Regions from separate parts of the Homo sapiens genome. Here region 2 is linked to region 1. Evidence: fine-mapped expression QTL. A gene starts in region 1. The other region holds a variant in brackets. All regions are shown on one strand. Distances are from middle to middle. Region 1 holds the start of PNMA8B (PNMA family member 8B). Region 2 holds the start of PNMA8A (PNMA family member 8A).

The links.
Region 2: its variant is fine-mapped to the expression of PNMA8B in whole blood (TOPMed, PIP 0.91).

Annotation. Positions count from the first base shown.
Region 1 is chr19:46,491,588-46,503,296 of GRCh38, reverse strand. PNMA8B (PNMA family member 8B) reads left to right here and starts at 7,430. Exons shown (of 1, transcript NM_020709.3): 1 at 7,430-11,709. The coding sequence starts at 7,832. The coding sequence ends at 9,739.
Region 2 is chr19:46,469,165-46,480,873 of GRCh38, reverse strand. PNMA8A (PNMA family member 8A) reads left to right here and starts at 9,311. Exons shown (of 3, transcript NM_018215.4): 1 at 9,311-9,537; 2 at 9,760-11,141. The coding sequence starts at 9,839. The variant G/A (reference allele first, on the strand shown) is at 6,020.

The DNA of each region.
Region 1 (11,709 bases):
GCTCAGGCAATCCTCCTGTCTTGGTCTCCCAAAGTACTGGGATAACAGGTATGAGCCACCTTGCCTAGCCCTAAAAATAGATATATTTCCCAAAACAAAACAAAGTTAGTGAGAAGAGTGGCACTGTAGTATTTTGGTGTTTTTCAACTCACTTTGATATCTGGCTCAACAATCCTTGACCTGCCTCCTGGTTCAGTCAGCTGCAATACGGCACGGCATGTAGCCTCTGGAAAATTCCACTGAACACTGGTAAGAGAGTAAGAGTGAAAAGACAAATAATGGTTTAGTATTATGAAAATGGTTTTTATCTGATGGATGCCCTGGAATGTCCTTGCAACCCGTAGAGGTCCCCAGACCACACTTTGAGAACCCTTGCTCTGGCCGGGGGCGGTGGCTCACACCTGTAATCCCAGCACTTTGGGAGGCTGAGGCGGGCGGATCACGAGGTCAGGAGATTGAGATCATCCTGGCTAACACGGTGAAACCCCGTCTCTACTAAAAAAATTAAAAAATTAGCCGGATGTGGTGGCAGGCACCTGTAGTCCCAGCTACTTGGGAGGCTGAGGGAGGAGAATGGCGTGAACCCGGGAGGCGGAGCTTGCAGTGAGCTGAGATTGCGCCACTGCACTCCAGCCTGGGCAACAGAGTGAGACTCCGTCTCGAAAAAAAAAAAACGAAAACAAAGAAAGAGAACCCTTGCTCCAATAGCGCCATTTCCAGTTAAGCAGATTCACTTGTATTTTTCTCGAACACAAAATGAGGGGGAGAAGAATTTCGAACAATTTTTTCAAGCGATCCTCCCACCTCAGTCTCCTGAGTTGCTGGGACTCCAAGTGCATGCCATCAGGCCCAGCTAATTTTTGTATTTTTAGTAGAGACGGGGTTTCACCATGTTGTCCAGGCTGGTCTTGAACTCCTGGCCTCATGTGATCCACCCGCCTCGGTCTCCCAAAGTGCTGGGATTACAGGCGTGAGCCACCACGCCCGGCCTTGAACGCTTTACGCCCTTTCTTCCAGCTGTTTCCATTGGAACCTTACAGGCAGTGGCTTGGTCAGTCATAGGCTCATCTCTGCCTAAGAAGAGATCATGATTCCAGGGGAAATGCCCAGGGCGGGACTGGGCAGGACATGTTGGGGATCCTGATGTCCCTGCCTGGCTGGTCCCTGTAAGATCTTCTGTGCACAGGGCTTGGGGTTCATAGTCTATCCTTTTTTTTTTTTTTCTTTTTTTTTGAGACAGGGTCTTACTCTGTCATCCAGGCTGGAGTGCAGTGGCTCAGTCATGGCTCACTGCAGCCTCGACCTGGCAGGCCCAAGCAATCCTCCCACCTCAGCCTCCTGAGTAGCTGGGATTACAGGCACCTGCCAACATGACCAGCTAATTTTTCTTTTCTTTTTTTTTTTTTCAGACGGGAGTCTCACTCTGTTGCCCAGGCTGGAGTGCAGTGGCGCAATCTCGGCTCACTGCAAGCTCTGCCTCCCGGGTTCACACCATTCTCCTGCCTCAGCCTCCCAAGTGGCTGGGACTACAGGTGCCCACCACCACACCTGGCTAATTTTGCGTATTTTTAGTAGAGACGGGGTTTCACTGTGTTAGCCAGGATGGTCTTGATCTCCTGACCTCATGATCCACCCACTTCAGCCTCCCAAAGTGCTGGGATTACAGGCATGAGCCACCATGCCTGGCCATGACCAGCTAATTTTGGTATTTTTGGTAGAGATGGGGTTTCACCATGTTGGGCAGGCTGGTCTTGAACTCCTGGCCTCAAGTGATCTGCCTGCCTTAACCTCCCAAAGTGCTGGGATTACAGGTGTGAGCCACCACACACAGCCCAACATATGAATTTTATTTTATTTTATTTTATTTTATTTTATTTTATTTTATTTTATTTATTTATTTAGAGACAGTCATGCCTGTCACCCAGGCTGGAGTTCAGTGGTACAATCTCAGCTCACTGCAACCTCCGCCTTCCAGGTTCAAGCGGTTCTCCTGCCTCAGCCTCCTGAATAGCTGGGATTCCAGCCACTCACCATCACACCTGGCTAATTTTTGTATTTTTAGTAGAGATGGGGTTTCGCCATGTTGGCCAGGCTGGTCTCGAACTCCTGACCACAAGCAATCCACCTGCCTCAGCCTCCCAGAATGATGGGATTACACGCGTGAGCCACCACACCCAGGCTCCAACATATGAATTTTAAAGAGACATAATTCAGCCTCTGTACCTTTGGGTCCTCTTATAAACCAGACGCTCTCCTGGGGAGTCCCCTCTGCATTCCAGCGTGCCACCTCATCCTGTCCCACGGTGAGAATGAAATCTTTGTCCCAGTAACACTCAGGGCCAGGCACTGTTCCAACACACACACACACACACACACACACACACACACACACACACACATCCCGCTTAAATCCTCACAACCTCACGATAAACTGGGGCCACAGAGCCATGAAGAGACAAAGTGACTTGCTTGGTTATTGGGCAAATGTAAAAGACTAACCCGGATGGCACTTTGATCTTGGACTTCCAGACTCTGGAACTGGGAGAAAATAGATTTCTGTTATCTAAGCCATCCAGCCTGTGACACTGTTGAAAAATCAGTCTACAATGATCTGGGTCCAGAACCTAACTCCATTTTAGCACTTACAGCGGCTTTGTGGGAAGTAGGAAAGACTCTTGCTCTGCGTTGACCATTGCTAAAAGCATCCCTTCAGCCCCTCAAATGACTCAACATAGAGTTACCATGTGCCCCGGGATTCCTCTCCTAAAAGTGTCTGCCCAAGAGAAATGAAAACATATGTCTACATAGAAATTTGCACACAGCATATCCATCATGCTCCTATGTTCCTAGCATATTCATGATAGCCCAAAAGTGCAAACAACCCAAATGTCCATCAACTGATGAATGGATAAAGAAAATTTGATTTATCCATTCCATGGAACATTGCTCAGCCATAAAAAGAATGGAGGCTGGGTGCAGTGGCTCACACCTGAAATCCCAGCACTTTAGGAGACCGAGATGGGCAGATGGGCAGGCAAACTCCTGAGGTCAGGAGTTTGAGACCAGCCTGGCCAACATGGTGAAACCCTGTCTGTACTAAAAATACAAAAATAACTGGGTGTGGCGGTGGGTGCCTGTAATCCCAGCTACTCGGGAGGCTGAGGCAGGTGAACTCGGAGAACTCCTTGAACTCGGGAGGCAGAGGTTGCAGTGAGCTGAGATTGTGCCACTGCACCCCAGCCTGGGTGACAGAGCGAGACTCTGTCTCTAAATAAATGGAACAGAGTATTGGATGACACTTGCCACACAACACTGAACAAATGATGCTGAGTGAAAGAAGCCAGACACAAAGGAACAACATATTGTATGACTCCATTCATATGAAATGTCCAGAATGGGGAAGTCCGTAGAGACAGAAAGCAGATTAGTGGTTGCCGGGGGCTGGGGGGAGATTAGAGGGTTGGAGGGTGATGGCTAAGCAGTGTGGGATTTCTTTTTGAGGTGATGAAAATGTTTTAAAATCAATCGTGGTGTTGGTCACACAACTCTGAATGAACTAACAGCCATTGAGTTGTGCACTTTAAATGGGTGGGTTATATGGTATATGAATCTTCATTTTTACAAGAATTTCACCTGTGGTTATCCACAACGACTTAGAAAAGTGTCAGCTTCATCGGGCATGATGGCTCACGCCTGCAATCCCTGCATTTTGGGAGGCCAAGGAAGGAGGATCACTTGAGCCCAGGAGTTTGAGACCAGCCTGGGCAACATAACAAGACCCCATCTCTACAAAAAATAAAATTAGCCAGGCGTGGTGGTGTGCTGCAGTTCCAGCTACTCTGGAGGCTGAGGTGGGAGAGGTGCTTGAAGCCAGGAGTTCAAGACTGCAGTGAGCCATGGTCATGCCACTGCACTCTAGCCTGGGAGACAGCAAGACTCTGACTCTAAAATACACACACACACACACACACACACACACACAAAGTGCAAGCTTCCTGTTTCTCTTTTTGTTGTGTTTTCCAATCTTGCAGTTATAAATAACAGTTGTGCTGAGTGTATTCACACACACACACACTCTCTCTCTCTCTCTCTCTCCCCCTAATTAATTCTTGCAAACAAATTCCCAATGGCCCTGTGTGGCTGCTGAGCCCTTGAAATACGGCTACTCCAAAGGGACTCATTATGAAAAGAGAGTGTCTGATAGCTCATAAATAATTGTTTTACATTGACAACTTGTGCAAATGACAACACTTTGTATATTTCGGGATAAATAATATATATTCTTTATTTTCTTTTTCTTTTTCCTTTTCCTTTTTTTTTTTTTTTTTTTTTTTTTTTTTTTTTTTTTTTTTGAGACAGGGTCATTCTCTTGCCCAAGCTGGAGTGCAGTGTAGCATGATCATCTCTCACTTCAGCCTTGATCTCCTGGGCTGAAGCAATCCTCCTACCTCAGCTTCCTGAGTATCAGGGACTACAGATGTGTGTCACTAAGCCTGGCTAACTTTTGTATTTTTTGTAGAGACGAGGTTTTGCCATGTTGGCCAGGCCGGTCTCAAACTCCTGGGCTCAAGTGATCTGCCTGCCTCGGCCTCCCAAAGTGCTGGGATTACAGGCGTGAGCCACTGCGCCTGGCCAAAATCTATTCTTAAAATTCATTTTTCTTCCCTCTTTTCTATTTATTGAAGGTGGCCCCCTAGGAAATTTTGTATTTTTTGTAGAGATAGGTTTTCACCATGTTGCCCGGGCTGGTCTCGAACTCCTAACCTCAAGTGATCTGCCCGCCTCAGCCTCTGAAAGTGCTGGGATTACAGGATTACATGGTGAGTCACCATATTTCTTCTTTTTTTAGATCAATAGATGCAGAAAAAGCAGCTCGTTTTTTGTTTTGTTTTGGTTTGGTTTGGTTTGGTTTGGTTTGGTTTTTTTGAGACAGCGTCTTGCTCTGTCTCCCAGGCTGGAGTGCAGTGGCGCAATCTCGGCTCAATGCAACAACCTCTGCCTCCCAGGTTCATGTGATTCTCCTGCCTCAGCCTCCAAGTAGCTGGGATTACAGGCGTGCGCTACCATGCCCAGCCTAGATTGGAGATTCAAATGTCAAAAATGACACTTTGTAATCCCAGCACTTTGGGAGGCTGAGGTGGGTGGACCACCTGAGGTCAGTGTTGGCTGGCTGCAACTAGGAGTTTTAACATTGCACGTGCGGTTCGAATTTGGGGCTGGCATTCTATTCCTGCTGGACAACGCTGCTCTGGAGAAAAGAGTCACATCACATCCATCTGTGGATCAGGAAGATCAGAGGAGGAAAAAGTGGGGGAAAATAGGAGTGAGTAAGCGGTTTGCCCAGTTGCTGTGGTAACCTTGCAGTTAAACTCTCCTTAAACATAAAAAAATCCAAACACAAAAGTAAGGGGTTGGGCCTGGTGGCAAAAACAAAAAACTCGAGGTGTTTTGGTTTCCTATTTATTTGTTTATTAACAGATGCTTTGGGCTGAGCACGGTGGCTCGTGCCTGTAATCCCAGCACTTTGGGAGGCCGACGCCGGCAGATCACCCGAGGTCAGGAGTTCCAGACCAGCCTGGCCAACATGGTGAAAATCCATCTACTAAAAATACAAAACTAGGCCGGGCACGGTGGCTCACACCTGTAATCCCAGCACTTTGGGAGGCCGAGGCGGGCGGATCACGAGGTTGGGAGTTTGAGACAAGGTTGCCCAACATAGTGAAACCCCGTCTCTACTAAAAATACAAAAAATTAGCTGGGCGTGGTGGCGGGCACCTGTAATCTCAGCTACTTGGGAGGCTGAGGCTGGAGAATGGTTTGAAGCCGGGAGGCGGAGGTTGCAGTGAACCAAGATCACGCCACTGCCCTCCAGCCTGAGTGACAGTGCGAGACTCTCTCTCAAACAAACAAACAAACAAAAAACTAGTCAGGCATGGTGGTGCATGCCTGTAGTCCCAGTTACTCGGGAGGCTGAGGCAGGAGAATGGCTTTAACCCGGGTGGTGGAGGTTGCAGTGAGCCGAGATTGCTCCATTGCACTCCAGCCTGGGCGACAGAGCAAGACTCCATCTCAAAAACAAACCAACAAAACAGATGCTTTTATAATGGTAAGTTCTCAACAAATACTTCTCTTAGCCATCTTTCATGGAGCACCAGCTGTGGGCCAGCTGCTCTTCTAAATGCTTTCCTGGATTATTCCCTTTAATCCTCATGAGAACCCTTTGAGGCCAGGCATGGTGGCTCACCATGTAATCCTGTAATCCCAGCACTTTCAGAGGCTGAGGCGGGCAGATCACTTGAGGTTAGGAGTTTGAGACCAGCCTGGGTAACATGGTAAAAACCCATCTCTACAAAAAATACAAAAACTTGCCAGACGTGATGGTGTATGCCTATAATCCCAGCTACTTGGGAGGCCTGTCATCCTTGCTACTCAGGAGGCTGAGGCAGGAGAACCGCTTGAACATGGGAGGCGGAAGTTGCAGTGAACCAAGATTGTGCCATTGCACTCCAGCCTGAGTGACAGAGCAAGACTCCATCTCCAAAACAAACAACAACAAAAAAACAAAACCCTTTGAGGTAGGGATGATGGTTGAGATATAAACCTACCAGCTGGTCTACAGAGCCAGATTCATATAGAGTAGGGGACAGCCTCATGGCCAACAAGGGACAGAGAAGCAAATGCATGTTTACAGTAGCTATGACTGACGTTCACACGCCCCAGTCTGCTGTCCCAGTCAAGGGAAATGCTTTCTTGCAAAATTCATGCCTGGTCTCACAATCATACATATGCTCAAAGCGTGTGCAAAACCACAGGATTTATTGTGCATGCATAGTTCAGAATACAGGAACGTGTATGGGAGTGAGGGCCGGTCCCATCGAGTGGGGCCTGTACCCTGCAAGTGAGGCCCATATACCCTGAATGGTGTCTTGCTCACAGGTGGTGCCTGGGCCCCCCTATTTGATACTGAGACCCATATACTGTGAATGAGGCCAGTATCCCGAGTAAGTCCTGGTCCTACGCTGCAAGGCCAGTGCCCTTTGATTTAGGCCTATATAATCCTGAATTCCACCTGGCCCCTGGAAGGGGGAATTGTAACCCCCAGTGATGCCGGTACCCTCTGGAAGGAGGCCTCTATCCCCTGAATGAGGTCGGGTATCCTTGAGTGATTTCTGGCCCTCTGTGGTTTCGGCCTTGTTTTTTGCTGGTTAATGAAAGTGGTGCTTCCAGGCCCCAAGTCCTTGTCATCGGGACCTTTAAGAAAAGCGTCTCAGGCCACAGCGACGCAGACCCCAGCTCAAGGCTGCACCGTTGCCATGGAGACGGTTGGGCGGGGGACAGGGGAGGGTGTGCGGCTCCCTCTGCGCAGGCGCACGCGCGAGCAGCCGCGTCGCAGCGGAACTGCTGAGATTCAGGCCCAGGGTGCGCGCTCAGACGCGGCGCGAGCGCCAGGCAAGCTGCGGCTGCTACCTCCCACGCCTCTCCAGGTGCACTCGGCGCCGCCCCCCTGCACCTGGCTGCGGTGCCGAGTCACTCAGGCCTGTGTCAGGGAGAGAGGGAGGGAGCTGTCCTGGAAAGCAGACACGTAAGCCCCCCGCGGATCCTCAGACAGCTCTGGAGAGGGGTCCCGGGGGAAGGTCACTGCGTCCAGCCGGCCAGCAGGCAGCTAGAGCCCCCGAGCCCCGAGCCCCACTCCAGCCTTGCCACATTCACCGGAACCGGGACTCTAAGCCCTGCAAGTGGCTTTCTAGGGTTGCATTGACACCGTGCGCTGCAGCCCACCCCTATCTCGGGCTCCCTGCTGCCCCAAGATCAGCGCCAAGGGGGCTGCACCATGGCCATGAGCCTTTTGCAGGACTGGTGCCGGAGCCTGGACGTGGACGCGCACAGGGCCCTGCTGGTCACCGGCATCCCGGAGGGCCTGGAGCAGGCAGACGTCGAAGCCGTCCTGCAGCCGACCCTCCTGCCCCTGGGCACGTTCAGGTTGCGACACATGAAGGCTTTGATGAACGAGAAGGCCCAGGCCGCCCTGGTGGAGTTTGTGGAGGACGTCAATCACGCTGCCATTCCCAGGGAGATCCCAGGCAAGGATGGGGTCTGGAGGGTTCTGTGGAAGGACCGTGCGCAGGACACGAGGGTCCTGAGGCAGATGAGACGCCTGCTGCTGGATGACGGGCCCACGCAGGCCGCGGAGGCTGGGACCCCCGGGGAGGCACCCACCCCTCCCGCTTCGGAGACGCAGGCCCAGGATTCTGGGGAGGTAACAGGGCAGGCTGGCTCGCTTCTTGGGGCAGCCAGGAACCCAAGGAGGGGCCGTCGGGGTCGCAGAAACAGAACCAGACGCAACAGGTTGACCCAGAAGGGCAAGAAGAGAAGCCGAGGAGGACGGCCGTCTGCTCCCGCGAGGAGTGAGGCCGAGGACTCTTCCGACGAGAGCCTGGGCATCGTGATCGAGGAGATCGACCAGGGCGACCTGAGCGGAGAAGAGGACCAGAGCGCGCTGTACGCCACGCTGCAGGCCGCTGCCAGGGAGCTGGTTAGGCAGTGGGCGCCCTGCAACTCCGAGGGGGAAGAAGACGGTCCCCGCGAGTTCTTGGCTCTGGTCACCGTCACCGACAAATCGAAGAAAGAAGAGGCAGAGAAGGAGCCAGCTGGGGCCGAATCCATCCGCTTGAACACCAAAGAAGACAAAAATGGTGTCCCCGACTTAGTGGCCCTGCTGGCTGTGAGAGACACCCCGGACGAGGAGCCGGTGGACAGCGACACTTCGGAGAGCGACTCGCAGGAAAGTGGGGACCAAGAAACAGAGGAGTTGGATAATCCTGAGTTCGTGGCCATTGTGGCCTATACCGACCCGTCGGACCCCTGGGCCCGGGAGGAGATGTTGAAAATCGCTTCTGTTATCGAGTCGCTGGGCTGGAGCGACGAGAAAGACAAGCGAGACCCCCTCCGACAGGTCTTGTCCGTCATGTCCAAGGACACTAACGGGACCCGCGTGAAGGTGGAAGAGGCGGGCCGCGAGGTGGACGCCGTGGTCCTGCGCAAGGCCGGGGATGACGGGGACCTCCGGGAGTGCATTTCCACCTTGGCGCAGCCGGATCTCCCTCCCCAGGCGAAGAAGGCTGGGCGTGGCCTCTTCGGGGGCTGGAGCGAGCACCGTGAGGACGAAGGGGGTCTTCTGGAGCTGGTGGCGCTCCTGGCTGCCCAGGACATGGCGGAGGTGATGAAGGAGGAAAAAGAAAACGCCTGGGAAGGCGGGAAGTACAAATACCCCAAAGGCAAACTGGGGGAGGTATTGGCGCTCCTGGCCGCCCGGGAGAACATGGGGTCCAACGAGGGGTCGGAGGAGGCTTCGGACGAACAGTCCGAGGAGGAGTCGGAGGACACCGAGAGCGAGGCGTCGGAGCCGGAGGACAGGGCATCCAGGAAGCCCCGGGCCAAGAGGGCGCGCACGGCCCCCAGGGGCCTGACTCCGGCCGGCGCGCCTCCCACCGCTTCCGGGGCCCGCAAAACCCGCGCGGGCGGCCGAGGCCGAGGCCGGGGCGTCACTCCCGAGAAGAAAGCCGGGAGCCGGGGCTCGGCCCAGGACGACGCCGCAGGAAGCAGGAAGAAGAAGGGGAGCGCGGGCGCCGGGGCCCATGCCAGGGCAGGCGAGGCCAAGGGCCAGGCGCCCACTGGATCCAAGGCCGCGCGCGGGAAGAAGGCCCGTCGGGGCCGGAGGCTGCCCCCTAAATGCCGCTAGTGGCCCCCCAAGAAGCCGCCCAGGCTGCGAGCAGGCCCCGCAGGGCACCCGCCCGCCTGTGGCCCCCGCCCTCCCCTCCCCTCTTCCTGTCCTCCGCAGACGCAATCTCCTCGCTTCACAGCGCGCCCGGGCCGCGTTTTGCCAGCGTCACGTTCCCCTCTCGGGCCCTCGCAGGCCGGGGGCGCCAGCGATCCCGACGGAGGAAGCCCGGATGGGAGGAGGAAAGAGAAGTGGGCGCCCGAGGCAGCAGCGCAGGGCCGAGATGGGGACGCGCCAAGTGGACCAGGATTGGGGGCCCGGGTTGCCCCCGGAGGGGGTGTGTGTGTGGACGCCGGGCACCTGCAGAGGCGAGCAGGGCTCTTCGTGGCGCTCTCGGGGCCTGCGCCTGGCAGGTGCTGTAGGCCGCTGTCGCCCCTACCCCAGTCTGACTGGGCCCTGGGTCTGTGGTGGAGGCTCAGTCACCAGCCGCGCAGCGCGTGTCAGGGCGCAACTCTCAGCCAGGGGAGGCCCCAGCTCCCAGCCAGGGGAAGAGATGATTCCAGAAAGGAAAGTCTGAGAGATAGAAGGCGGTTGGGAAGGGGAGGAGGAGGAAAGGGGAGAGGAACGGTGGGAGAAGGGAAAGAGGAGGAGGAGGGGGAGGGGGGAGCAGAGGGAAGACACATGCCAGCCCTGCCTACTGGGGCGCCCCTGATAACAAAGGAACCAGCCCCAGGCCAAGGCCACCTGCCCCTGACCACAAGTTGAATTTGTCACTCAGACTGCAGTGTTTCCCAACATTCTAATTATTTGCAGAGGTGTTCAATTTGGGGTAATTCACTTAAAATCCAGTTTTGGTTCTTCTGGGCTGAGTGGGCCCTGGCCCCTCCCATAGGCTGTGGCTCCCCTGGGTGCCCCCTCTCCAGTGGAGCTGACCCACCGCTCAGCGCTGGCCTTGCAGCCCTTACTAAAAGACTTGAAAGTCCCTGGGTTCACCCCCTGAGTGAATTAAAGGCCAGAGGGGCCCCGAAGGGCACTGTGAGGGACAGAGGCTCACCTGGGCAGTGCAGAAGCCGGCCGCGTGTCCCTCCTTACAGGGGATGAAATGACCTGGGGAGGAAACCCCAGCCCTGCCCTGGAGGTTCCAGAGTAGGCGGGCCGGTGCTGTGAGGCTTCACAACCTGCTGTCCCAAGCACGCTTGAGTTGTATGTGAGTCTGTGCCGTGCCGTGCCGTATGCTTCAGCTCCTGCAACCCCGGCTGAGCTCGATTTTTACCTAAATATCAGTCTCCACGGGACCCCACCTTCATTCATGCCTTCTTGTCCCTGGGGCAATGTGTGTGCTTCCTCGTCCCAATTTCCATTCCCTGGCAGTGAGGAGCCCATCGTGCCAGGGGGCCCTGCCCCACTTGTCCCTGGGAAGGAATAGGAGGGTTTGGGTGTGACCTCACAGTCCAGACCAGACTGTCCCAGTCCTATGTCAGGGACACCCAGATGTAGAAGCTGACTGAGACCTGCTGCAGGGCGTGGGTGCTCCCCTCTGCTTGGAGGCTGTCCCTGGACAGTGACCCACCCACTGAGGACCAGGCTGGGTGTACCTTGAGCTGGGCACAGCAGCCTGTGGTGTTGCCTGTGGGTGGGGAGGGCCCCAGGTGTGCTTCTCCCGTAGCAGTCCTAGGCTTCTCTCCCTGTGCCCTGTGTCACCTGGATCCTCCAGTAAAGTGAAATTCAGCACTGTACTCTCTCTGTGCTCTGGGCAGTGGGGCAGGCGGGGTGTGGGAGCGTGGGCCACAGATGTCCACGGTCTTGACTGTGGTTTGCCCAGAATACCTGGGAACTGTCCTGTCACTGGTTTACATACACTGTCCTTTGCTGCTTCGGGATCCCTGCCTGGCTCTCCCTACCCCCCAGCATCATCTCACCCCTTGCAGATCTGAGCCAGCTTCCACTCCCACCCCTGATGCCTCCCCACTTCCAGCCTCAGCTCCGAAGCC
Region 2 (11,709 bases), 22 kb after region 1:
TTACATGAATGTAATCCTATTGGTGGATTGTTTTTAATGTATGTGTGTGTGTGTTTCAGAAAAAATACATTAAGAAAAGAAAAGGACATGGGGCCTCTCGGTTTCCTGGCCACAATTCCTCACTTGGAATGTTGTTCCCTCACTGTAGAGAGTGGAGACAGCTGCTGGCGTTTTTTCTGTCAGAAGGAAATTCAGGGCCTGCAGCTGTGGCTGTAACCCGACCACCACCCCCGCCTCCCGCCCCAGCTCAAAGGAGAACACATCTCTTCTCCCGCCGCATAATCCTAAGGTTTTATTGGTTATTTCCAGAGAGAGAGAGAGAGCTAACTCAGAACGGCCCAGGATAGAGTTGCTAGGATTGTGGCATAAAACTACTGGACTTTATGTTCTTAATGTTTTGTTTGTTTTTTGAGACGGAGTCTCGCTCTGTCACCAGGCTGGAGTGCAGTGGCGCGATCTCGGCTCATTGCAACCTCCACATCCCAGGTTCAAGCAATTCTCCTGCCTCAGCCTCCCGAGTAGCTGGGACTACAGGTGCCTGCCACCACGCCTGGCTAATTTTTGGATTTTTAGTAGAGACGGGGTTTCACCATGTTGGCCAGGATGGTCTTGATCTCTTGACCTCATGATCCACCCGCCTCGGCCCCCCAAAGTGCTGGGATCACAGGCATGAGCCACTGCACCCGGCCGTTTTTAATTTTTTATCTTACAAATAGACACAGGGTTGGTGGGAGGGCAGGTGTCTCCCTATGTTGCCTAGCCTTGAACTCTTGGCCTCAAGCAATCCTCCCATCTCGGGCTATTTTATTTTATTTCATTTATTTTATTTTATTTTTTGAGACAGAGTCTTGCTCTGTCACCCACGCTGGAGTACAGTGGTGTGATCTTGGCTCACTGCAACCTCCACCTCCCGGGTTCAAACGATTCTCCTGAGTCTCCTGAGTAGTTGGGATTACATGCATGGGCCACCATGCCTAGCTAATTTTTGCATTTTTAGTAGAGACGGGGTTTCACCATGTTGGGCAGGCTAATCTCGAACTCCTGACCTCAAGTGATCTGCCCGCCTCAGCCTCCCAAAGTGCTGGGATTACAGGCGTGAGCCACTGCAACCAGCTGACACTGTAACTTTTGAAAAGCATCATATTTTATTTATTTTTTGTTTTTTGAGACGGAGTCTCACTCCGTTGCCCAAGCTGGAGTGCAGTGGCACAATCTTGGCTCACTGCAAGCTTCGCCTCCCGGGTTCACGCCATTCTCCTGCCTCAGCCTCCCGAAGAGCTGGGACTACAGGCGCCTGCCACCACATCCGGCTACATTTTTGTATTTTTTTTTTAGTAGAGACAGGGTTTCACCATGTTAGCCAGGATGGTTTCGATCTCCTGACCTCGTGATCCACCCGCCTCAGCCTCCCAAAGTGCTGGGATTACAGGGGTGAGCCACCGCGCCCGGCCATATTTTCAAACAAGTTAAGAAGTCACACCTGAATCCAAGCAACATAGATGTCTGTAGGGCATCAGCCACCAGCCCTTCTCAGCTCTTCATTTGAAAGACCGGAAAATAGAGAACGACCTGCATAGCCATCCATAGGGGACTCGGTAATTAACCTATGGCAGTGGCTGTCACATGTGTTTGATCATGATCCGTGATAAGAAATACATTTTGCTGTGACCTAGGAGACACACACACACGTAGATATAATAGAAAATAAAGCCAGGCATGGTAGCTCACACCTGTAATCCCAGCACTTTGGGAGGCCGAGGCGGGCAGATCACCTGAGGTCAGGAGTTTGAGACCAGCCTGGTCAACATGGTGAAACCCTGCCTCTGCTAAAAATACAAAAATTAGCCGGGCATGGTGGCATGCACCTGTAATCCTCGCTGAGATCGCACCACTGCACTCCAGCCTGAGTGACAGAGCAAGATTCTGCCTCAATTAAAAAGAAAAGAAAAGAAAAGAAAAAAAATAATTTAAAAAAGGAAACTCTGCAGCAAGAAGGGGCTCTCACAGAACAAATTGGACAGAGCCAGCCAGGTTGAGTCACAGAACCACCATGATGGGTTGTTGCAACTGACTCAGGAGGAAACATCTAGGCGGGATCCCAGAGCCCCCTGGACTTTCTTTGGGTTCAGTGTTTATGGAAACTCTGTGGGTTCTCACTGAACATACACAGCAGGGCAAAATAAAAACTCAAAGGTGAAACACAGCGGAAGAGGATGGAAGGAGAACCCTAAACTGGAAGTGCAGAGATGGAGGGGAGGGTTGGGGCTGCAGGGATGCTTTGTCATGGAAACCACAGTGCCAGTTGTTGCCTTGGAAACCACAGCACATCGTGTTGTCATGGAAACCACTGTAATGATTCCTGTTAAGGGTGCTTGAACTATTTTTAAATCAGCTAGCAATCACTGTGGCTCTTTAATGGGAGAGCAGGCAGGCAGCTGACTCCACTTCACACACACACGCACACACACATATACACACATAGTTGTACCTTTATAATATTTAGGCTGAGGCAAAATTAATTGCAGTTTTTGCCATTGAAAGTAATGGCAAAAACATGGCCAGATGCAATGAAATGGCTCATGCCTGTAATCCCAGCACTTTGGGAGGCTGAGGCGGGAGGATCACTTGAGCTCAGGAGTTTGAGAGCCTGGCCAACATGATGAAACCCTATCTCTACTAAAAGTACAAAAATTAGCCAGGTGTGGTGGTGCACGCCTGTAGTCCCAGCTACTTGAGAGGCTGAGGCAGGAGAATTGCTTGAACCTGGGAGGCAGAGGTTGCAGTGCGCCACTGTACTCCAGCCTAGGAGACAGAGCAAGACTCTGTCTCAAAAAAAAAAAAAAAAAAAAAAAAAAAAAAAAAAAAACCAGGTGTAGTGGCTCATGCCTGTCATCCCAGCACTTTGGGAGGCTGAGGCGGGTGAATCACCTGAGGTCGGGAGTTCGAGACCAGCCTGACTAACATGGAGAAACCCTGTCTCTACTAAAGATGCAAAATTAGCCAGGTGTGGTGGCACATGCCTGTAGTCCCAGCTACCTGGGAGGCTGAGTCAAGAGGACTGCCTGAGCCCAGGAGATGAAGGCTGCGGTGAGCTGTGATTAAGCCACTGCACTCCAGCCTGGGTGACAGAGTGAGACCCCATCTCATAAAATAAAATAAAATAAAATAAAATAAAATAAAATAAAATAAAATAAAAATTGTGGAATATTCCAAACTCAAAGTCAAGAATAGAGAATTGACTGGGCACGGTGGCTCATGCCTATAATTCCAGAACTTTGGGAGGCTGAGACAGGAGTTGGAGACCATCTTACCCAACATAGTGATACCCTGGCCCTACAAAAAAATTTTAAAAATTAGCTGGGCGTGGTGGTGCATGCCTGTGGTCCCAGCTACTCAGGAGGCTGAGGCAGGAGGCTCGCTTGTGCCCAGGAGGTTGAGTCTGTAGTGAGTTGTGATCCTGCCACTGCACTGTAGCCTGGGAGATAGAGCAAGATCCTGTCTCAAGAAGAAAAAAAGCTGGGTGTGGTGGCTCATGCCTGTAATCCTAGCACTTTGGGAGGCCGAGGCGGGCGGATCACGGGGTCAGAAGATCGAGACCATCCTGGCTAACATGGTGAAACCTCATCTCTACTAAAAATACAAAAAATTAGCCGGGCGTGGTGGCGGGCACCTGTAGTCTCAGCTATTTGGGAGGCTGAGGCAGGAGAATGGCGTGAACCCGGGAGGTGGAGCTTACAGTGAGCCGAGATCGCGCCACTGCAAGCCAGCCTGGGTGACAGAGCGAGACTCCGTCTTAAAACAAAACAAAACAAAACAAAGTACAAAAATTTGCCAGGCATAGTGGCGGGTCCCTGTAATCCCAGCTACTTGAGAGGTTGAGGCAGGAGAACTGCTTGAACCCAGGAGGCAGAGGCTGCAGTGAGCCGAGGTCGCGCCACTGCACTCCAGCCTGGGTGACAAAGTGAGACTCAGTCTCGAAAAAAAAAGAATTGATATTTATATAACTAATCCTCATGCATCCCGTGCCATTCTTCATCAAATCTTAATACTATGCTAAATTTATTTACACCTTTTTTTTTTTTTTTTTTTTTTTTTTAGCATTATTGGCTGGACTCAGCAGCTCATGTCTGTAATCCCAGCACTTTGGGAGGCCGAGGCAGGCGGATCACTTGAGGTCAGCAGTTTGAGACCAGCCTGGGCAACATGGGGAAACCCCTTCTCTACTAAAAATACAAAAATTAGCTCAGCATGGTGGCACGTGCCTGTAATCACGGCTACTCAGGAGGCTAAGGTAGGAGAATCGTTTGAACCCTGCAGGTGGAGGCTGAGTGCGCCACTGCACTCCAGCCTGGGGGACAGAGTAAGACTCTGTCTCAGAAAAAAAAAAAAAAAGAGATTTATATAATTAACCCTTATGTATCCCTTGCCATTCTTTATTAAATCTTAATACTATGCTAAATTTATTTACACATCTTTAAACAAAATTATTGTTTAAATAGGCTGTGTCCTACCTCCCATATGACTTGCCCTCTTCTTCTCCCCAGAGATAGTCACTTGGAGGATTATTGCATTTAAAAATCCAGTATTTATCAAAACTCAGTGTCTGTCATTCCCTTGCATGCCAAAATAAATAACTGAAAAAGAGAGAAGAAAAAACAGACAGTGTCTAATTCTAACTGAGTCACTGTGTGACTCAGTTTCCACTGCAGCAACTTTGTCTGCAGCCTGGATCACAAACAAGCTCCCGCATTTGTAAAACTACTTGGCAAACATAGCAAAAGCCTCTGAGATTCAGCAAACATCCATTCCATTTCATTTTAGTTATGATGTTTTACAATCCACTGCTGGTATAAATTTACTTTTTATCCTGTCTAGATTGACGATTTTCTTCTTCTTCTTTTATTTTTTTATTATTATTTTTTTTTGGTCTGACAAATCCTTAGCAGAATTTTCAAACACACTGAGATGTTTTGTTTTCTCTTTGAAGAGAAAGTTCCAGAACTTTGATTCTGTGCTCATGCACTGGGGTTGGGTGGCATTCCTGAAGGGGCAGCCAGGACTGTTAGGAATATTGGCTCTGCAGAAAGCTGAAACCTGGCTTTTGAGGCAAAGCTGAAGGCATCTCTCTCCCTCCCTTGCCCCCCATCTCTCCATTCTGTAACGCATTATTTGTTCACTTTTGTAGTAAAATACACATAACATAAAATTCACTATTTTAACCTATATTTATTTTTCAAAAAATAATTTACTTTTTTTTTTTGTTTGTGAGACGGAGTTTCACTCTTGTTGCCCAGGCTGGAGTGCAATGGCACAATCTCAGCTCACCGCAACCTCCGCCTCCTGGGTTCAAGCGATTCTCCTGCCTTAGCCTCCCAAGTACCTGGGATTACAGGCATGCACCACTATGCCCGGCTAATTTTTGTATTAGTAGTAGACACAGGGTTTCTCCATGTTGGTCAGGCTGGTCTTGAACCCCTGATCTCAGGTGAGCTGCCTGCCTTGGCCTCCCACAGTGCTGGGATTACAGGCGTGAGCCATCGTGCCCAGCCCGTCTTCATTTTTCTACCTTCACTCCTACTAGCGTTCCTGGACCCAGATGTCCTGGATGCAGAGGTCCCTCCTGTTACGGTGGTAGACGCATCTCATTCCCATGGGGGTCCCAAATACTTCTCTAGAGTAACTTTTTTTTTTTTTTTTTTTTTTGAGACGGAGTCTTGCTCTGTCGCCCAGGCTAGAGTGCAGTGGCGTGATCTCGGCTCACTGCAAGCTCTGCCTCCCGAGTTCACGCCATTCTCCTGCCTCAGCCTCCTGAGTAGCTGGGACTACAGGCGCCCGCCACCACGCCCGGCTAATTTTTGTTGTTGTTGTTGTATTTTTAGTAGAGACAGGGTTTCACCATGTTAGCCAGGGTGGTCTCGATCTCCTGACCCACGATCCGCCCGCCTTGGCCTCCCAAAGTGCTGGGATTACAGGCGTGAGCCCGCGCCGGCCTCTCTTTCTTTTTTTGAGACGAAGTCTC[G/A]CTCTTGTCCCCCAGGCTGGAATGCCATGGTGCAGCCTCGGCTCACCATGTTGGCCAGGCCATTCTCCTGCCTCAGCCTCCCGAGTAGCTGCGATTACAGGAGCTTGCCACCAGGCCCGGCTAATTTTTTTGGATTTTTAGTAGAGACGGGGTTTCACCATGTTAGCCAGGATGGTCTCGATCTCCTGACGTCCAGATCCACCCGCCTCAACCTCCCAAAGGGTGGGATTACAGACGTGAGCCACCGCGCCCAGCCTCACAGGAACACTCTTGTTCTTGCATCCTTGAGCTTCCAAATAAGAAGTTCAACGATCTACCCTCTGGTTTTCATGCTGTGAGGAAGCCCAAGCCACATCAGTGCTTCCATCAACATTTCCCAGCTGAGCCCAGCTTTCAAAGGATTTCAGCCCAGGCACCAGACATGTGAGTGAAGAAACTCCCAGATGATTCTAGCTCTCAGTCATTTGAGTCACCCCCAACTGTCACGGGTACGACTAGGTGCGGCGGGTGTTGTGGGCAGTAAAGGTATTTACCAAGACAGTTGTAGGTAAAGAAAGGCAGATTTATTAGAGAAGATATGAAAATACATTGCACGGTTGCAATGGGCAGCACAGCAGAGAAGGGGGCTGTCTGCAAAAAGGCAGGGACTGGAAGTTTCATAGGGGTATGCTGGAGGGGGCTACATGCAGAAAGAGGTCATTGTGCCCATGGGGGATTGTGATTAGCCATCTCTCAGAAAAATTGTTCATTGTTCTTCCCAACCTGGAATGCTGTGAACCCGGGAGGTGGGGCTTGCAGTGAGCCGAGATTGCGCCACTGCACTCCAGCCTGGGCGACAGAGCGAGACTCTGTCTCAAAAAAGAAAAAAAAAAAGTGTTCCAGTGAATGAGGAAGAAGCTGCGTGCCCTTCTGTAACATAGTCTGAGAAGCCACATAGCTTCCTTTCCACTAAACTCCATTGGTTAAAGTAGTCACAAGTCTGCTCAGATTCACGAGGAGGGGACACAGATCGTCACTTCTCAATAGAAGTGTCGGAGAATTTATGGCTATGTTTTTAAACCACTGCCTAAAAATATACACTCATTCTTCCACTGATATGTAGAATTTCAACATATAAAGCACATGAGATTTAAAGACTTTAATCATAGCTAGAGTGTTTATTGGAATATTCGGTGTGAATTATGTGAATAATCAGAGGTTAACGATTTGAATGACACAACTTTTTAGCACAAAATATGATGGAAACTTGGGCAATCACACAAGTATTGATGATGCCCAAATTTAGGAATGCCAGAGATGACAGTGAAATGAACATTTGGCTATTTGGCCTTGCAAATGTCAGTTTCAAAAATGAACCCAAAGAACAGATTTTGGTTGAATACCAAGGCCCAAATTGTACTTCCATGCATCTTTCAGATGAGATCCCCCCGAATCTTCAAAACTTCCAAATCAGGAAGATTTTTTATTAGAATTCCTATTACAGAGAAAAGAAATAAGCTCAGCGGGGTCAAATTATTTCTCTAAGATCACACAGCCAGGAAGGGACATTGGTAGGTGGATCAGTGAGGGACTGGCAAAAAAAAAAAAAAAAAAACAGATGGCCAGTCCAACCGAGTCTCATAGGAGTGCTTAATTAATTAGTTTATTTTTTTTGAGACAGGGTCTCCTGGGTTCAAGCAATCCTCCCACCTCAGCCTCCCGAATAGCTGAGACCACAGGTGACCCCTATCACACCTGGCTAATTTTTTGCGTTTTTGGTAGGGACGGGGTTTTGCCATGTTGCCCAGGATGGTCTCGAACTCCCCAGCTCAAGTGATCCGCCCTCCTCAGCCTCCCAAAGTGTTGGGATTACATGCGTGAGCCACAGCACTGGGCATTAATAAACTATTAACAAAGTTCTTGCTCATGGGCAGCAAGGTTGAGGTAGGAGGCCCAGGGGACTCCACTGAGGATCACATTGAAGACTGGCCAAAACCTGGAAAAGGCACCGAAAGCCTCTCTCCATAAGACATGCCTGCCAGCACCATGACAGTTTACCATTGCCATGGCAACACCCATAAGTTACTGCCAATTTGCTAATTCTGAAAACCCACCCCTTAATTAGCACGTCATTAAAAGTGGGTATAAATGTGACTGCAGCCTTGCCCCGAGGTGCTATTCTCAGCACACTGCCTAGAGGGTAGCCCTCCTTGTTAGGTTTTGGAGGGAAGGTGAGGGTTAAAGACACACAGACAGAAGGCGGCTCAACAGCAACTCAGGTATACTGCAGACACCTGTGGAAGTGGGTAACCAGCCTAATGCCAGAGCCCACTGCTGCTTATAGGCTGGGGGTACTTATAGTTATGGGTGGGAGGGGTCTGAGCAGTATGGTTTGCTGCCCAGCAGGATGTTGATAAGATGGTTCCATGATGAGGCGGTTCTGGCCCTTGTTCTGGTGGAATGTGGTGTTCTCTGCACTTTCTCCCAGCAGAATATGATAGGGATGTTTCTTCAGTTGGGCCTTTGCACGATAGGGTATGATAATGTTTCTTTAGCTGGGCCTTTGTCCGCCTTGTGGTCAGGTGATTAGGCAGGATGTTTCTCATTGGCCCGAACCCCCGTGGAATATTTCACTTTGACCAAGATCTGCAAAATAGTCAGGGCTTACAAAATGGTTGCAGTTTGGACTAACACTTCTCTGTAGGGGCAGTCACTGAGCTGTAACATTGTCCCCTGCCTGGAGGATGCCAAGAACCTGCCCTGAATCACGTTGAGGAAACAAGAAAAGGCGAGGCATTATCCTCATGCTAGAAGGGGTCGGGGAGGAGACTAAGAAATTTCTAGAAGTTTCTGGAAATTCCTGGAAGAACCCAGCAGCTTGTAAGAGAGAAGGCTACAAGCCCAACAGGAACTGCACCTGCTGTTGGAGGAACCCAAGAAGATTAAAGCCTCGTTTTCCTCCTTTCTTGATTTCTAGTGTCTCCCAAGAGTTGCGTTGGGTGAATCCAACAGGTGGGGCAGAGGATAATACAGTCAGTGGGTGCAGCCATAGGTGTTGGCGCTTCTCATCGACCTAACCCCCGTTCGCGAGGCCCACTTGGGTTGAAAGAGGGCCTCCGTGGAGGCGCCACCGGAGTGTATCCAGACCCGCTTGCTCTGCGACCTGAACAGGCCACTCTTGCACCCGGCTCCCTAGGTCCAATTGCAGCGCCGGCGCGCCGGCCGGGCTCAGCCCTAGCAACCCACGCCCGGTTGCCATGGAGACGTCGGCACCTGCGCAGCCCAAGACCCCCGAGCGGCGGTGCGGGAGCCAGTGCGCAGGCGCGCGCTGCGACGCCAACCTCGGCTTCTCGCCGCTAACGGCATCGAGTCTGGACGCCCCGTGACCCGCCTGGGCCGGAGCGGGGGCGGACGGCGCCTTCTTGGCCCTTTCTGCCTCTAGCAGCGGCGCCGGGGTAGCCGGAGCCAGCGACTGGGAAACGGCTGCATTCCACTGCGTCTCCTTGGCCTGGCTGGGCGGTCGGAGGCTGATCTGCCAAGTAAGTCCCGGCTGGGCAGGCGGAGCGTCAGGCCCGGGGGAGGGTCCTAGGGCCTTTTGCTGCAGATTCAGGGACACGTGTGAGCACCGGGGCCTGGGTTGGGGAGGAGGGTGTTGGGAAAGCGCCAGGCCTCCTGCAGGCCAGCCGCGGAGGGGGCAGCTAGGATCTGTGAGCTTGGTCATCTTCCTGGGAACGTGACCTCGCTCCCTTGTCACCTTGCAGGATTACTGTTTGGAGACCGCTGCAGCCCACGTCCACCTGATAGACTATTTACTACACATAGTAGGTTCAGAGCCGCTAAATGTCCAAGACCATGGCGATGAACCTTCTGGAGGATTGGTGCAGGGGAATGGAAGTGGACATCCACAGGTCCTTGTTGGTCACAGGCATCCCAGAGGACTGTGGGCAGGCAGAAATTGAGGAGACCTTGAATGGGGTCCTCTCCCCACTGGGCCCGTACCGCGTGCTCAACAAGATTTTTGTGAGGGAAGAGAATGTTAAAGCTGCCCTCATTGAGGTTGGTGAAGGTGTGAATCTGAGCACCATCCCCCGTGAATTCCCAGGAAGGGGTGGTGTCTGGAGAGTGGTCTGTAGAGACCCTACCCAGGATGCCGAGTTTTTAAAAAATCTGAATGAATTCCTGGATGCCGAGGGGCGCACCTGGGAGGATGTGGTCCGCCTGCTCCAGCTCAACCACCCCACCCTGTCCCAGAACCAGCATCAGCCCCCAGAGAACTGGGCAGAAGCTCTGGGGGTGCTTCTGGGAGCAGTGGTGCAGATCATCTTCTGCATGGATGCCGAGATCCGCAGCCGGGAGGAAGCCAGGGCCCAGGAGGCCGCTGAATTCGAGGAGATGGCAGCCTGGGCTTTAGCAGCAGGGAGGAAGGTGAAGAAAGAACCGGGGCTTGCAGCAGAGGTGGGTTCTGCCTTAAAGGCAGAGACCCCCAACAACTGGAATGCCACGGAAGACCAGCATGAGCCTACCAAACCTTTGGTTCGCAGGGCTGGAGCTAAGTCTCGCTCCAGGAGAAAGAAGCAGAAGAAGAACTCCAGGCAGGAAGCAGTGCCCTGGAAAAAACCCAAAGGCATCAATTCCAACAGCACAGCTAACTTGGAGGATCCTGAGGTGGGTGATGCTGAAAGCATGGCGATCTCAGAGCCGATCAAGGGCAGCAGAAAGCCCTGTGTGAATAAGGAGGAGTTGGCTTTGAAGAAGCCCATGGCGAAATGTGCCTGGAAGGGTCCCAGAGAGCCACCTCAGGATGCCCGGGCAGAAGCCGAGAGCCCAGGAGGCGCCTCTGAGTCAGACCAAGATGGTGGCCATGAAAGCCCACCAAAGAAGAAGGCCGTGGCCTGGGTGTCTGCCAAGAACCCCGCTCCCATGAGGAAGAAGAAGAAGGTGAGCTTGGGCCCTGTCTCCTACGTCTTGGTTGACTCAGAAGATGGCAGGAAGAAGCCGGTGATGCCAAAGAAAGGGCCAGGCTCAAGAAGGGAGGCATCAGATCAGAAGGCCCCTCGGGGCCAGCAGCCTGCCGAGGCAACAGCCTCAACCTCTAGGGGTCCGAAGGCCAAGCCAGAAGGCTCTCCTCGGCGTGCCACCAATGGTGAGAATGATAGCAGAAGTGACTGGGCTCGTGCCAGCAAGTGGATGAGGCAGGAGGAGCAGGAGTGGCAGGTGGGGCAGAGGAGCCCGAGGAGGTGGTGGGTCAAGCGGGTGATGAGGAGGACCCTGGTGCATGGCAGGAGGTGGATGACACACCAGTTGAGGAGGGTAAGAGCCCAGACCGCCCTTCCAGGAGCCCCTGAAGGCCGATGCTGGAGACATCTGGTGGGCAGGAGGTGGCAGAGGAAACCCACAATGAGTGTCACTGTGGTCATTTGCCACTCCATCTGACCCATCTTCCTTGATGAGAATTTAATGGTTTGGGCCCAGGCTTGGTGGCTCATGCCTGTAATCCCAGCACTTTGGGAAGCCAAGGTGGGCAGATCGCCTGAGGTCAGGAGTTCAAGACCAGCCTGGCCAACATGGTGAAACCCCGTCTCTACTAAAAATACAAAAAATTAGCCGGGTGTGGTGCCACATACCTGTAATCCCAGCTACTCGGGAGGCTGAGGCAGGAGAATCTCTTGAACCCGGGAGGTGGAGGTTGCAGTGAGCCTAGATTGTGCCAC